3 separate regions of the Homo sapiens genome follow, and all the other regions are linked to region 3. Evidence: fine-mapped expression QTL. A gene starts in region 3. Each other region holds a variant in brackets. All regions are shown on one strand. Distances are from middle to middle. Region 1 overlaps NUP62 (nucleoporin 62). Region 2 holds the start of LOC124904742 (a long non-coding RNA gene). Region 3 holds the start of ATF5 (activating transcription factor 5).

Region 1 (5,219 bases), 24 kb after region 3:
GTTGGTCAAGGAGCAGAGCGGGACCATCTACCTGCAGCACGCGGATGAGGAGCGTGAGAAAACCTACAAGCTGGCTGAGAACATCGATGCACAGCTCAAGCGCATGGCCCAGGATCTCAAGGACATCATCGAGCACCTGAACACGTCCGGGGCCCCCGCCGACACCAGTGACCCACTGCAGCAGATCTGCAAGATCCTCAATGCGCACATGGACTCACTGCAGTGGATCGACCAGAACTCGGCCCTGCTGCAGAGGAAGGTGGAGGAGGTGACCAAGGTGTGCGAGGGCCGGCGCAAGGAGCAGGAGCGCAGCTTCCGGATCACCTTTGACTGAGCGACAGCAGCCCTGGGGCCCGCAGGTCCCTAGGGAGTTCATGAGGGGAATGCGCCCTGTTGTCTGTAGTTTGGGGTTGTGGCAAGATACTTGTTTGTTTGTTTCTTTCTTTCACATGACTGCCCTTGACATGATCGCTGTGTGCTTTGCGTTTTTCCATTTAGGAGGGTATTCTGGGCCTTCTGCCCAGGCAGCAGCCTCATGGGTGTGGCTTCTGTGGCTTTCATTTGAGTATCTTTGGCCCCTTTTCACCTACTGCGACCACCCACCTCATCCTGGCTCAGCCTGGTGATGGAGAAGTGCTGATGGTCTTGGTCCCAGCCAGGGTCGTGGGGGCAGCCACTCTCTCCAAAGCATAGTCATAGGTGTCATGAAAAAATACCAAATGTAAGAGAACCTCCAAGTCAGGGCGCAGTGGCTCACCCCTGTAATCTCAGCACTTTGGGTGGCCAAGGCGGGCAGATGACTTGAGGTCAGGAGTTCGAGACCAGCCTGGCCAACATGGTGAAACCCCGTCTCTACTAAAAATACAAAAATTAGTCAGGTGTGGTGGACGCCTGTGATCTCAATCTCAGCTACTCGGGAGGCTGAGGCAGGAGAATCACTTGAACCCAGGAGGTGTTGCAGTGAACCAAGATCACACCACTGCACTCCAGCCTAGGCAACAGAGACTCTGTCTCAAAAAAAAAAAAAAAAAAAAAGAAACTCCCAGGAGACAGCAGCCTAGTTTTCGAGTGTGAGCTTGTGCTTGTGAAAGCTAACCATGCTAACCACCAAGGCAAAGCAGCACAGTGTGAATAGAACAGAGCGGGATCAAGAATTTCACAGAAGACAGGTCAGCTGAGGGGCCTGCACACACAGGGTGTTGAGGAACCACAGATGGGCGCCGAGAGGCCTGCCTTTTGCCTGGCCCAGGCTCACCCCCACCTTGGGCCTCACCTCCTCCAGGAAGCCTTCCCAGCTACCCGAAGCTCAGGTGGCCTTCTTGCAGGTCCCCGTAGCACCCTGAGCCTGTACCTTGGGTGGCACTTGTTATGCTATCCTGTGCTAGCCGTTTGTGCCTCGTCTCGCTGTTAGATTGTGAGTTCCCATGGGCAGAGACCCACTGTCGTTCCCCGTGTGTCCCCAGCCCGGTCCCTGTCACATTTGTTAAATGAAAGAACAATGAAGCCCAGTGTAACGTCAGTCCACAGAAATAGCCACAGCTTCCAGTGGTGGCCGTAGACTTGGCTCGGAACTTAGTGGCACCAGAGTAACTCTAGTCAGTTACAGTAAAATCCACTGTGTGTGGAAGGCAGAAGCTAGCGGTTGTATCCCAAGCATCTTTTGTATTTGTCTTTATACTTTGCTGAATTCTCTGAAATACCTATTACTGTATGTTGCTTTTCTAAATAAATGTATTGTGAAACCAAAACAGCTGCTGTTAATATGGATAAATGTTAGGAGGAGAAAGCTGAGTAAAAAGAGCAGGTTCCAGGAGACTCTGCAGGGGTGCCATTCACATGAAACGCACAGGCAAGCAAATGAAGTAGTGCTTGCATAGACATAGGGGTATGCGATGAAGCAGCTTTTGTTTGATGAGACAGAGTAATAGACAAATGCAAATCGTGGTTTGCTCCAGGAAGGGGTGGTGCTAGTGGTAGAAGAGGAACACACGAGTGAAGCCGCCACGGGGAGTGGGCTCCAGGTGTTTTGTGACAGTTATGTCGTAGAATATACACAAATATGGCTGGGCGAGGTGGCTCACACCTGTAATCCCAGCACTTTGGGAGGCCAAGATGGGCAGATCACTTGAGGTCAGGGATTCAAGACCAGCCTGGGCAACATGGTGAAACCCCGTCTCTATA[A/T]AAACTACAAAAAAGTTTGGTTGTGCGTGGTGGCACGCAACTGTGGTCCCAGCTACCTGGGAGGCTGAGATGGAAGGATCATTTAAGCCCAGGCCTTTGAGGCTGCAGTGAGCCATGATCACACCACTGCACTCCAGCCTGGGCGACAGAGCAAGACTCTGTCTCAAAAAATATACACACATGTTAAGTCATCTAGTACCATCCCTAAGGCGCTATTCCAGTGGTTACAGATGTCATGGGCAGCATTCCTTCCTGTCACCTGGGGCTAAAGACACGGGCCCAATGCTCTTCCTCCACCCTCCAGCCTCGCTCTATGGACTGGAATGGTCCTAAGCACTCAGATCTCCTGGGCTGTGGGGAGTGGAGTGTACCCCTTTGGCCTCCTGCTGCCTGTTCCATCTCAGTCTGTGGGCAACACTTGGGAGATTCATGGCCCAGGTTCCAAAAGTCTCCCGAAGTCATGATCATGAGTCATTATTTCCTTGGACCGGCCAGGTGCGGTGGCTCACACCTGTAATCCCAGCACTTTGGGAGGCCAAGGCTGGCAGAACACCTGAGGTCAGGAGTTCGAGACCAGCATGGCCAACATGGAGAAATCCCATCTCTACCAAAAATACAAACATGAGCTGGTGGCTAGTTAAGTGGCGGGCGCCTGTAATCCCAGCTACTCGGGAGGCTGTGGCAGGAGAATCGCTTGAACCCGAGAGGTGGAGGTTGCAGTGAGCCGAGATCATGCCATTGCACTCCAGCCTAGGCAACAAAAGCGAAACTTCGTCTCAAATAAATAAATAAAATTTCCTTGCACCATCTTGGGCTCTGGAGGACAAGAGTTGTGTCTAAGTAGAAACCATGGGTGTGTGTGGTGGGAGCAGTAAACCAGAGGAAGACCCCACAACCCAGCTACTTCTCTCTGAAAGCTGTCACCTACAGCAGGGACCTTTTCCTGCAGTTCATAGGCCTTGACTCATATTGTCCCCTCTGCCGGAAGGGAGGCCTTGAGTCCCCTTAGGAGGTAGGAAGCAGTTTGCATTTTACCTACATTTGTGCGTTCAGCATCCATTTTTAGAGCTGATCCTGATCTGGTGCTGGAGGTACCAAAAAATGCCCACAAGGTCGTTGGCAGGGGCCACACAATCATGATGAGAAAATTTGAGCATGTATTTCCAAAGTGTACATGTATATTTTTCCTATTATTTTGCATATTATTTCCTATTTTGTATATTAACCATTAGCAAAGCTTAATTGCTTTCTTATAGTTATATTTTTAAAATAAATTCCAGCTTTGGGAGGCCGAGGCGGGTGGATCACCTGAGGTCAGGAGTTTGAGACCAGCCTGGCCAACATGGTGAAACCCCGTATCTTCTAAAAATACAAAAATTAGGGGCTGGGCACGGTGGCTCATGCCTGTAATCCCAGCCCTTTGGGAGGCCAAGGTGGGCGGATCACGAGGTTAGGAGATCGAGACCATCCTGGCTAACACGGTGAAACCCTGTCTCTACTAAAAATATAAAAAAATTAGCCGGGTGTGGTGGCAGGCGCCTATAGTCCCAGCTACTCGGGAGACTGAGGCAGGAGAATGGCATGAACCCGGGAGGCGGAGCTTACAGTGAGCAGAGATCAAGCCACTGCACTCCAGCCTGGGCAAAAGAGTGACTCCGTCTCAAATAAGTAAATAAATAATACAAAAATTAGCCCGGCGTGGTGGTGGGTGCCTGTAACTCCCAGGTACTCAGGAGAATCACTTGAACCTGGGAGGCGGAGGTTGCAGTGAGCCAAGATCGCGCCACTGCACTCCAGCCTGGGCAACAAAGTTAGACTTCATCTCAAAAAAAAAATTTTAAGTTCTGCATTTTCTTCCCATACCCCAAAGGATCTTGAGCACCCCACTCTGAATAACACAAGTGATTCCATTAAATCAGGAGGCTCTGTGCCCCAAAGCCATGTGAGAAATGGTCCCAACAGGCCTCCTGGGGGAGTCTAGGAGGGATCCCGAGATCGCAGCAGCATCAGCAACCGACTGGGTGCCACCGCGGGTGATGGCTCCATCGTAATTTCAGTTTCCCTTTCCAGGAAGAAAATACACAGATGTGCTTCCTTCCCAGTCCTGACAAATGGCCTTTCCTTAAGTTCCTCATTAATTCATATGAAGACAACACATTTGGTGACTAAATTTGGAATCAGAGGCTTTTAAAGGTGAATCTCAGCTCTTACTGCTTTGCTTTCCCCTGTTTAGGGATAAGAGTGGCAAATGGGGGCTGGGTGTGGTGGCTCATGCCTGTAATCCCGACATTTTGGGGAGGCCAAGGGGAGTAGATTACTTGGGGTCTGGAGTTTGAGACCAGCCTGGGCAACATGGCGAAACCTCGTCTCTACAAAAATACAAAAATTAGCCTGGCGTAGTGGCTCCTGCCTGTAGTTTCAGATACTTGGAGGCTGAGGTGGGAGGATCACATGAACCTGGGAGGCAGACATTGCAGTGAGCCGAGATCGTACCACTGCACTCCAGCCTGGGTAACAAAAGTGAGACCCTGTCTCAAAAAAAAAAAAAAAAAAAAAAAAAACCCAGCACATATAACAGTATAATATGTAGTCAAACCATGAGGGAATGATGACTTTTTATTCTTTTTTAGTAAAAACTAATCATCAATACAATTTATTTTTTAGTAATGAGTGGCTTGCAAAGCAAAAACTCCTGAAAATGTAAATCAGCTCTTATGACCTGGTATGACTCAGCTTCAGCACACCACTGCTCCCAAGTTTTCAGTAAACCCCAAAAATGTCAGGGTGCTTTAAAAATCTGCCCCTCAGACTCAGGGCAGCGGCTCTCCACAGAACCTCCCAGGGAGCAAAGCCCTCACGCTCGGAAGCGAGGTCTGCTTCTTGCACAGCAGCCAGCCCCCCAGCCAGGTTTCAGTGACCCCGGCTGTTCCCCTGCCTGTCCCACAGGACCACACCCTTGGCTTCTGCACACCAGGGCCCTGGTGACTTCAAACACAGTGACCCACATGGGCGCCCTTGTCCCGTCTCCCCTCCAGACA
Region 2 (5,219 bases), 130 kb after region 3:
GGCTGTGGGCCGGAAGCAGTGGCTCATGCCTGTAATCCTGGTACTTTGGGAGGCCGAGGCGGGCAGATTGCCTGAGCTCAGGAGTTTCAAACCAGCCTGGGTAACATGGTGAAACCCCGTCTCTACTAAAAATACAAACAAATTAGCTGGGTGTGGTGGCGCGTGCCTGTAGTACCAGCTACTGGGGAGGCTGAGGCAGGAGAATGGCTTGACGCTGGGAGGCCGAGGTTGCAGTGAGCCGAGATCGCACCACGGCACTCACTCCCCACTCCAGCCTGGGCAACAGAGTGAGACTCCGTCTCCAGAAACAAACAAACAAACAAACAAAAAACAGGACTGTGTGGGGCCCCTTTCCTGGGGCAGAGGGAAACTACCGAGATCCGGGGGCCAGGACTGCACACTGGGTGCCCCATGCCCATGCCCTGGGGACTCCTCACATCAGGCCCATGAGACCATAGCCCTGGGTCCCCTGGGTTGGCCCAGAGAGGCAGAGGCCCCATTTTGAGGTCACGGCAGTGCAGGAGAAGGAGGGTGGCTGCGGGCTGGCAGGCGCCACGGCCCCGGCCATCCTTGCTCTGCCTCTAGGTCCTGTCGTGGGGTCATAGGGTCAGGGTCAGGGATGCTGACCTCAAAGACGGTCTTGGCGGCATAGCCCTGGACGTCATCACGGTTGGTGACGATCTGTAGCACACGGTACCACACCTCCTCACTCACGTAGTCGCCCGCAATGCGGATGAGGTTGAGGATGGTGTCCACGTACCAGCTGTAGTCCACGGCGTACTTCTCGGCCAGGATGGCCACCTTCAGGACCTGCCGCCGGGGCGTGTGAGAGAGAGTGTGCCGCAGGCCATGTCGGGCTTTCACTCACCTGGATCTGGGCTCACCACTGCCCCCATCTGGAGACCCAGGAGTCCAGGCCCCAGCCCCTCCTCCCTTAGACTTAGGAATCCAGGCCCCCAGCCACCTCCTGCCTCAGACCCAAGAGTCCAGCCCGCACCCCACAGCACTCACGATCTCCTCGCGGATGGCGTAGTCTGCCGTCTCCAGGTACCGCAGCATCTCCGACACGATCTGCTTGGCATTGCTCCGGTCACACATGGCGTAGAGGAGGTCAGCCGCCCGCTGCCGCACGCTGACGTCCCGCTCCGTCTGAGGGCGGAGAGCAGAGCCCAGGTGTGTTTTAGACTCCCTGTTGGCACAGGGTTGGCCACCCAAGGGCCTCTGAGCCTCTGGTCTTTCTGAGGGGGGTGGCAGGCCCGGGGTGGGCTCCAAGGGCTCACACCTTGAGGGCATTGATGACGGTGTCAATGTGCGTCTTGACGGCTTCATGGGAGAACTCGGAGCTGGCCAGCGTGCACATGCTCTCCAGGGCCAGGTAGCGCAGGTTGGTCTCCCGGTGCTGCAGGAACTGGCCCAGCTGGTTGCAGGCCCGAACCAGGAGGTTGGGCTCACTGCCAGCAGGGGCCACAAGAGAGGGATGGTGAGAGAAACTGACAGGAGAAGGTGGAGGACTCGGGCCCCAGCTGACCCATCTCACAGCCCCCAAGGATCCAGGTCTTAACCTTGCCGGCCTTGCATCGCAGTACTGCACCTCCAGTGACCCAGACAACTGGGCCTTTGAGCCCAGAGAAAGATACCTAGCAATTCTGCCCCCAGGAAGGGCCCCAGCACCAACCTCACAGGTGACACTTCACAGCCCCATCCTCCTCCTACCCTACCTAAAAGTCAAGATTCCCTGCCCTCTGCCTAGGACTCAGGAGTCCGGGCCTCCATGCCCCTCTTTCCTGGCCCCAGGCATCAGGCCCTGATAGGCCCAGGCGGGCACCTGTCATAGTGGATGATGAGGCTGATGGTCTCGAAGAGGATGGCGTTCTTGGCGTTGGAATGCTGCACCTTCTTGGATTTGGGGGGCTCCTGGGCCTTGTTGAGCACAGTCTCCAGACATTCCACCAGCCGCCCCTTCACAGCCGCATCCTCTGGGGAAACGAAGGGGACGCCCCCGGCTGAGTGTCCTGCCCACCTGGCACACCTGCTGGGGTGGTGGCCATGCCCCAGCTCCTGTCTTCCAAAGGAGGAGCTCGGGGTGCCTCTGACACTCGAGAATTCTGCAGCTCAGGGCCAGGGTCTCTGCTCCCTCAACCTCTTCCCAGCCCAGCAGAGATGGTGAGACAAGGCACCTCTGGAGACACAAGATCTATCCCCAGACCTGGGCTCTCCTCCTGCTCTGACCCTCTCGGGCAAGAGGTGGCACCATGTGAGCCTCAGTTTCCTCATCTGCAGCTCTGAGGCTCCTTAGGTTTCTCACAGAGCAAAGGAAGCTCCAGGAACCTTCCCCAGAGGTGCCCCCAAACCCAGGCCTTCCCAAGGACTGGTGTGAGTGCTGAGCAGCCCCTGACAAAAATGCACAAGCCACCCACCCAAGTGTCCATTCAGCAAGAGGCCACTGCAGGCACACTCGGTGCCATCCTCCTGGCCTAGAGGCTGGGAGGCCAAAGGAGACAAGGCTCAACCAGGTGCCCCCTCACCCCCCAGAGCTCTCCACCACTGACAGATGCCAGCCAGCAGCTCACAGGAGCACCAATCACCACGTTTCCTAGAATGTGACGTGTTTTCAAGTGTATGCAAGAGCTGTCAAGCGTTCCAGCAAAAAATGGTTCCGCAGATTTTTCTGCAGAATTTTCCGCAGGAAAATTCACCAGATAGAGGAACAAGCTAAAATACACCACAAGGCAGCAATGAGCCCAGTCGCCACCATGGGACACACAGCAATGGCATCTCCTGGTTTCTCCATAAACAGGTGTAGGGGGGCTAGTCCAGACTACGAGAAATAACAAAGACAGAATCCAATTTAAATCCTATTTTTTGGAAACAGGGCAACTATGTTGTCCAGTCTGATCTCAAACTCCTGGGCTCAAGCGATCCT[TCTG/G]CCTCAGCCTCCCAAAGTGCTGGGATGACAGTGTTAGCCACTGAGCCTGGCAGAATCCGATTGAATATGTGATCCTAGATTGTACTGTGATATATATTCTGTTTTTTTATTTTTTTATTTTTTTTTGAGACAGAGTCTCACTCTGTCACCCAAGCTGGAGTGCAGTGGCACAATCTTGGCTCACTGCAACCTCCACCTCCCGGGTTCAAGCGATCTTCCCATCTCAGCCTCCTGAGTAGCTGGGACTACAGGCATGCACCACCACACCTGGCTAATTTTTTGTATTTTTTGTAGAGATGGGGTTTTGCCATGTTGGCCAGACTGGTCTCGAATTCCTGAGCTCAAGTGATCCTTCTACCTCGGCCTCCCAGATTGCTGGGATTACAGGCGTGAGCCACTGTGCCTGGCCCAGAACAACATATTTAAAGGCAAAACATCATGATGTCTGTAATTTACTTTTAAATATTTCAGAAGAAAATAAACAAGAGCATGCATACATGGCAAAATGTGAAGTCCAAGTAATGAAATCTCTGTACTTATCTGGATGCTGGGAAACTTTTCATAATGCATATGACAAAAAAATGACTTGCAAACAAATTGGCAATAGCCCACCACCATTTGCTGAAAAGGAGGTGACACAGGGTTGGTGTGTCCTCAGGCCCAGCCTCAGGACAAGGCTGTGTCTCCAGTTCCTACACCACCGAGGGTTGGAGTGGGTGAGGTGCCTGCAATGGGTGTACCCCAGAATTACCAGCTGGGCCTTCTGGGGTGGTCATGGGCTTAGAGCATGACTTAAGCCCTTCTTGACAGGACGAAAAAGAGGCCCAGAGAAGGAAGACATGTCCCCAGGGCCACACAACAGAATTCATCACTGGCTTCACACACGATGGGCCTCTGGTGTCACCTCCATATCGTATACTCAGAGTGTGTACACACACACCATGTGCAGAGGGACATGCATGGACACACGTAGATGCTGGCAAGCATTGAGACACGCACACACAGGCATGCACACAGGTATCTACACTCATGTACACATCCACTTGCATGCACAGGTACACATGTAGATGCACACACTGATATATACACATGTACACACATAGAGGGACACAGAGATACCATGAACACTGCCACATATAGACACAGACACGCATACATACAGATGCACACACAATGACACATCCACACACAGGGGATGCACGCAGACATGCATGCACACGGGCAGGTATCGACACACACAGGCGAACGCATGCACGCATGCAGGCATGCACACAGACAGGCATGCACACCCAGAGATTTGGTGGTGTACATCAGCCCTGGCCCCTGGCAGGTGCTGGACATGCTGGCTGAATGGAGGGAACTGGTGCATTAGCACCTACTGTGTGCCAAGCCCCTCAGCACAGGGTCCGAAGAAACTGCTCCATGAGGTCAGTCAGCCAAGGCGACAGAAGCTCGGGGGAGCTCAGTGGCAGAGGGAGGGGTTTAGAGCAGAGAGTCTGGGGGCCAACTGCCACTTACTGCCTAGAATGGTGATGTCTCACCTCCAAGCCTCAGTTTCCCTGTGTGCATATCACACTGGCTGTTCCTCCTTGCCAGCTCTGTTCGGCAGGTGCAGGTGCCCCCTGCCCAGTGCCTGGCTCACTACAGGAGTTTCATACACACTGGCTATTGTGACTGTGAGCAGTAGGGGAAGGTTCCCAACAGATGTGAAAACCCCTGACAGGGCTATGGTAATTCAGGTAGCACGGCCTGGAATCACCCACTGACCGGGTGAGTGACGCTGGGCCAGGAGCTCCCTCTCCAAGCCTCAGATTCCTCATCTATAAAACAGGCACAGTTAACAGTCCCTCGCAACAGGGCTGGAGTGAGAGCCCGGGTAGCAGGGACCTCAGCTATGAGGCTGATCCACGATGCTGCACAGGGTAGGCGCTGGGCCTCGGGCTGCCTGCTTGCCTCCCCGAGTGCAGCCACGTAAGGGGACAGAGGAACCGCCCCAGCTTCAGAGAAATCCTGACCCAGACCCTCCAGTCCCACCTGGTGCGCCGTGGAGCAGGAGGCCCCCAGATGCCAGCAGCAGGCCACCCCGGGTTGGGGAGTGCACGGCGTTCATTACCTGGAGGCGGGTAGCACTGCAGCAGCCGCAGGAGCTTCACCGAGAGCCAGGGTGCTGGGACGAAGTAGTAGGTGTAGTCCTGGAGGTCGGTGGAGGCAGAGGAGACGATCTGGCGGGGAAGAGCAAGAAATAAGTTGGGGGCTGGGGTGGGAGGGGCACGTGGGTCCACATGCCAGGGTG
Region 3 (5,219 bases):
CTCACGTCTCATTCAGGTGCATCTGTCCCATTCATTCAGTAAAACAACTAACCACTGAATCATCAAACCAGTCAATAAACCAACAAACCAGTGAAGAAACCAATAAACCAGTCAACGAACCAACCAACAATCAACCATCTAACCACCCAGTCAACCAACCAACCAACCAACCAACCAATGAACTAGTCGACCAATCAATCAGGGAATCGGTCAACCAACCAAATAAATCAGTCAACCAACCAATCAACCCATTAATCAACCAATGAACCAGTTAACCAAAACCCAACAAATTAGCCAATGAAAGAATCAGTCTTAACCCATAAGAGGGTCCAGGAGAAAAAAAAAATTAAAAAAGAAAAAAAGAACCAGCCAACCAACCAATGACTCAAGCAACAGTCAACCAAGCATTTCTTCAACCATTCCAACATCTCCTTTACCGAGTACTCTGTATCTGTGGTGTCTCTATTCTCTCTTTTTAAAAGGCAAACTAGATCACATTACACACACAGATACACACGCACATATGCCTTGTTTCATCTTTACTCATTAATTATTGAAAACCCACTATGTGCCAAGCATTTGGGATACAGTAATGAATGAAATGATTCCTGCCTCCTGAGGGCTTCTGCATATACAGTTCCCTCCAACTAAAATGCTCTTCCCTTGGGTGTTTTCCTCATTCCTTCCCTACTTTTTTTTTATTTTAAGGGATAGGGTTTCACTCTGTTGCCCAGGCTGCAGTGCAGTGGCATCATCTTGGCTCACTGCAGCCTAGACCTCCCAGGCTCAAGCGATCCTCCCACCTCAGCCTCCCAAGTAGCTGTGACTACAAGCGTGAGCCACCATGCCTGGCTAATTTTTTTTTTCCTATAGATATGAGGTCTCGCTATGTTGCCCACGTCCTGAACTCCTGGACTAAAGCAATTCTCCCCGCTTGGCCTCCCAAAGTGCTGGGATTACAGGCCATCATGCCTGGCTTCCTTCCCATCATTTATGCCTCAGTCAACATGTTACCTACTTGGAGAAGGTTTTCTGGCTACCCATTCTATATTAGGTCCCCTTTGTCATTTTGTAGCTCAGCTGCTAGGTGTTTTTGACTTATTCCAATACACTCTCATTTAATTTATCTCTGGTCTACTCCCCACAGTGTGAGCTGCTGGAAGGCACAGACCATGTTCTTCTTGTTCCCAGCCGTATCCTCAGCACCTAAAACAGTGCCTGGCACATTGTAGGCACTCAATATTTATTGAATACATGGATGAGTTCTTCCTCCCCCATCTTCCCCTGCCCTCCACTCCCCAGCTCCACCTTCCACCTGCCCTTACCTGCCAGGGGCTCTCCCCCCACTGGAAGCCCGCCCTCCAGGGCTCCCCCAAGGACCTCATAGGGAGCCAGGGGGGCAGGGGCCGGGGGGAGTTTCCCATAGTCTACGAGCCATCCCAGCCCACTAGCTGGGAGCAGGGCCCTGTCCAGCTCCAGCCCCAGGGTCGCCAGGAGTGACATGGCTGTAGCACAGGTGCTGGGCACTGATGGCAACAGGAGAGGCTGCACCAGCAGCTGGCACGAGGCTCTGGAGGATGCTCAGGTGGGCGAAGACAGGCACCAAGGCGAAAGTGGAAGACCTACACGCGTGAGACAAGAGTGGGTGTGGTCAGGACAGCGTCATCCACCGGCCAAAATCAAGGGGAAGCCAAGCCACACCCCCAGGCACGTCCATGAGGCTCCTCCCTCCCCCTTCCAACCACCGTTTAGAACACTAAGCCTCAGCCTCTCCGAATTCTAAATTTGCCCTTTCTTTACCCAAATCTCTGAGCCCCACCCACTCCCAAGGGAATTTCTTTAGGTCCTAAAGTAGGACCGATGCCCCACCCCTTCCCCCAATACAGAAAAAAAAAACCTAAAGGTCTCCCAGGGGAATTACCTTAGGCCCCTCCCATCCACCTCAGAATATTTCGCCTCAAGGAAAAACTCAATCCCAGGGACATTTTCTTCCAGCCACGCCCCTTCCTCTAAAATATTTCCTTTTGGCCCCACTGCCTTCCTAGCTTCCATCCCAAACCAGTTCCCAGGGGAACTGCCCCAGGCCGCAGCCCTTCAGCAATGTTATCCACTCAAATCCCACTCCTCGCTCTGCCGCTGCCCCTCCAAGCCCCGCCCCTCATTGTTTATTTAGCTCCGCCCCTCCCCCGATTCCCCAGAGGCCCCGCCTCTTTGTCACATCGAAACCCCACCCCTCAACTAACGGTTGGTTTAGCCCCGCCCCTTCTCACAATGTGCTTCCGAAATCCCACCCATCGTGACGACAGTGGTTCTATCCCCACCCACTTAGAGGGTTGCCTCTGGGTCCCGCCTTCTGCCCTGTCAATCTAAGCCAGTCCCCGCCTCAGCAGGTGCCTGGTTTAAAAGGAAGGAAGCTGGGCTGTGAGCCAGAGCAACGTGGGGCAGGGAGGGTGGAGGAGGGTAGAGGGGGCACGCGGAGAACGGCTACCCGAACGCCACCCGTCCACACGCGGCTCTGCGCCGAGGGCCAAGGCGCATGCTACGTCGCCCGAGCGGTCCAATTGCCTTTACACCTCCGCCCTCTTGGGGATCAATGCGCATGTGCGGCCATTCAGGGTCCGCAGCTCTTTCACTACGGGGCACTGGTGGGCTACTGCGCAGGAACAACCAAGCACGAAGAATCGTTTAGAAAAAAAAAAAACACACCCTCCCCTGGAGTGCTCAGGCCCAGCTGCACGCGGGCTGACAAACATCGAGTCTAGAACTCTCCCACCCGGCCCCGGGCCCAGTGCGCATGCGCAGCCGCGCGCCTTCGGCCCACCGTACTACTTCTGCGCCTGCGCGACCGTGATTCCCCGCTCGCGACTCCCCACCCCCCAGGGCTCCCTAAAGAGGGCCACGAGCTGCGAAAGGGCGGGAAAGGCAGTTGGAGAAGAGGTAAGCGGTTACTCACTCCATGGCTGCAGCAAGGAGAGGCGGCGGCGGCCTCGGCTGAAGAAAGAAGGTGGGAGCGGAGAGCGCAGGCGTGGTGAGCGCGGAGACGGGCCGGGGGCACAAAGGGGTCGAGGCTACAGAGCCATGGCCGGGGCTACGCAGGCAGAGGCGGCGACACTGTAGTGAGAAGAGACTGTGATCCGAGGACAGGGAATGAGGCGGCCCCGGGGACTGGGGACAGATATATACTGGGTGGCGGAGCACGGCCCTCCCGGATCCTTCCGCGCCCCGCCCTCGCGCGGCCCCAACCGGGAGGCAGCCGGGTCCCCTCCTCCTGGGGATCAGGGGATCCGAGCCTTTCCTTCCCACTCCTAGGGTCCGGGACCCTCCTCCCTCTCAGCTGGGGATCCGACCTCTTCCCTCTGAGCCGGGGATCCAGCCCTCTCCTTGTGGCTCCGGGGTCTGGTTTCCTCCTCCTGACTCTAAGCTCTGGTTTCTTTCTCTTTCTGCCTCTGAGGTCTGGGCCTGCTTCCTCCTGTGATTTTGAGGATCCAGCCTCATTCTCTTCCCGCAGACCTGCACCAGTTCATTTCTCTTTCCCTTTCCTTGCTTGCAGAATTTCCTGCCAGTCACTTTTCACTTCTTCATCCCCCAGCTGCTGACTCTGAGAAACCCTCGTGGGTTAGAGTCCAGCATGAGTCACAGCACTCTCCCAAATACAGACCTGCCAGGATGGCCTCGGGCAAATAACTTAAGTTCTCTTACTTCATTTCCCTATCTGTAAAATAAGAAAAATCAACTCGCCTGGTGGGTTTATGAGACTCAAATAAGACGATGTCTGGCAAGCCTTATGCACAGAGCTCAACTCATACATTCCTGTTCAACTGTTTTTTTTTTTTGAGACGGAGTCTCTCCGTCTCTGTCGCCCAGGCTGGAGTGCAGTGGCGCGATCTCGGCTCACTGCAAACTCCGCCTCCCAGGTTCACGCCATTCTCCTGCCTCAGCCTCCCGAGTAGCTGGGACTACAGGCGCCCGCCACCACGCCCGGCTAATTTTTTGTATTTTTAGTAGAGACGGGGTTTCACTGTGTTAGCCAGGATGGTCTCAATTTCCTGGCCTCGTGATCCGCCCGCCTCGGCCTCCCAAAGTGCTGGGATTACAGGCGTGAGCCATCGCTCCCGGCCTCAGCATATTTTATTAATAGGAACTCTGGGGCCCAGTCTCATTTCTTCCTTACCACTTGTAAGAGCCGCAGACGTTGGACTGTCCAACACCTGCTGTCATTCTTCTGTCTCCCTCATCCCTCTAAAGTGTCTGTTTCCAGCTATCCTCATCTTCCATTCCAAATGATGGGTGCCCAGGCCCCATCCCCTGGCAGGGATTCAGACATCGAGGCCCCAGCTGCGTCCTTTTCTCCATCCCTTGCCCTTGGCTTCCTTTCAAACCGTCCTTCAGCTTCCACTGGATAGGAACTATCTCCCAACCCTGCCAAAAATGGAAGATCTCCGTTTTCGTTTAGTCACAGGGTAGCCATCTTGCCCCTTCTCATGCACTGGGCCCTCCTCCACCAGCCGAGGTGGATGTCCGTCTTTTCTCTGTTGCAGAAACCCACCTTGTCCCATCCACATCAGGACATCCCAGCTGGAGTTCAACCTTCATCCCTTCTGTGGCAGTTAGGAGACTGAATCAAGGTCCAGAGAAGGTGGAGGAATCCTGATACTGAGCGGTACACACAAGCTTCTTTCTCCTTCCTTACCTGTTGCGGGCAGGAAGTCCTTCTTGGGATCTGACCACCTTCCCTTAGAGCACTTACTGTCCACTCTGCCAGTTTTTGAGCACTTGCCCTATATTTTCTTGGGCCTATAGGGGCTGTGTTATCACTGAGGCAGTATACAGAGTAGCAGCTAAGAGCATAGACTGAGCTTGTCCCACCCGTGGGCCTGCATGCGGCCTAGAACAGCTTTGAATGCAGCCTAACACAAATTTGTAAACCTTACCAAAACATGCGAATTTTTTGCGATTTTTTTTTAAGTTCATCAGCTATCAATAGTGTATGTTATGTGTGGCCTAAGACAATTCTTCAATGTGGCCCCAGGAAGCCAAATTTTATACATACCTGGCATAGACTCTGGAGCCAGATTATATGAGTTCAAAACTTGACTGCACCCCTCTTACTAGCTGTGTGACCCTGGCCATTTCCCTTCCCTGTGCCTCAGTTTCCCCTGTGGTACGAAGTGGCATTAAGAATACCTACCTCTGGACCAGGCACGGTGGCTCATGCCTGT

Evidence for each region. PIP is the estimated chance that this variant, and not a neighbour inherited with it, causes the effect. A credible set is the group of variants that fine-mapping cannot tell apart.
Region 1: its variant is the best candidate, but not a certain one, in a credible set for the expression of ATF5 in whole blood (TOPMed, PIP 0.63).
Region 2: its variant is the best candidate, but not a certain one, in a credible set for the expression of ATF5 in aorta (GTEx, PIP 0.53).

Annotation. Positions count from the first base shown.
Region 1 is chr19:49,903,354-49,908,572 of GRCh38, reverse strand. It overlaps NUP62 (nucleoporin 62), which reads left to right. Exons shown (of 3, transcript NM_016553.5): 3 at 1-1,748. The coding sequence ends at 334. It also overlaps a transcript of IL4I1 not described here. Among named protein-coding and RNA genes, the nearest start is that of IL4I1, 9.1 kb to the right of the region's middle. RefSeq lists enhancers at 1-657, 1,299-1,418. The variant A/T (reference allele first, on the strand shown) is at 2,182.
Region 2 is chr19:49,795,559-49,800,777 of GRCh38, reverse strand. It overlaps AP2A1 (adaptor related protein complex 2 subunit alpha 1), which reads right to left. Exons shown (of 23, transcript NM_130787.3): 7 at 5,040-5,148; 8 at 1,826-1,976; 9 at 1,283-1,451; 10 at 1,012-1,149; 11 at 628-810. LOC124904742 (a long non-coding RNA gene) reads left to right here and starts at 628. Exons shown (of 2, transcript XR_007067290.1): 1 at 628-1,173; 2 at 3,221-3,432. RefSeq lists an enhancer at 54-554. The variant TCTG/G (reference allele first, on the strand shown) is at 2,924.
Region 3 is chr19:49,927,135-49,932,353 of GRCh38, reverse strand. It overlaps ATF5 (activating transcription factor 5), which reads right to left and starts at 3,149. Exons shown (of 3, transcript NM_001193646.2): 1 at 2,954-3,149; 2 at 1,326-1,622. The coding sequence starts at 1,503. It overlaps NUP62 (nucleoporin 62), which reads left to right and starts at 2,850. Exons shown (of 3, transcript NM_016553.5): 1 at 2,850-3,028; 2 at 4,539-4,660. It also overlaps a transcript of IL4I1 not described here. RefSeq lists silencers at 2,360-2,409, 3,260-3,319.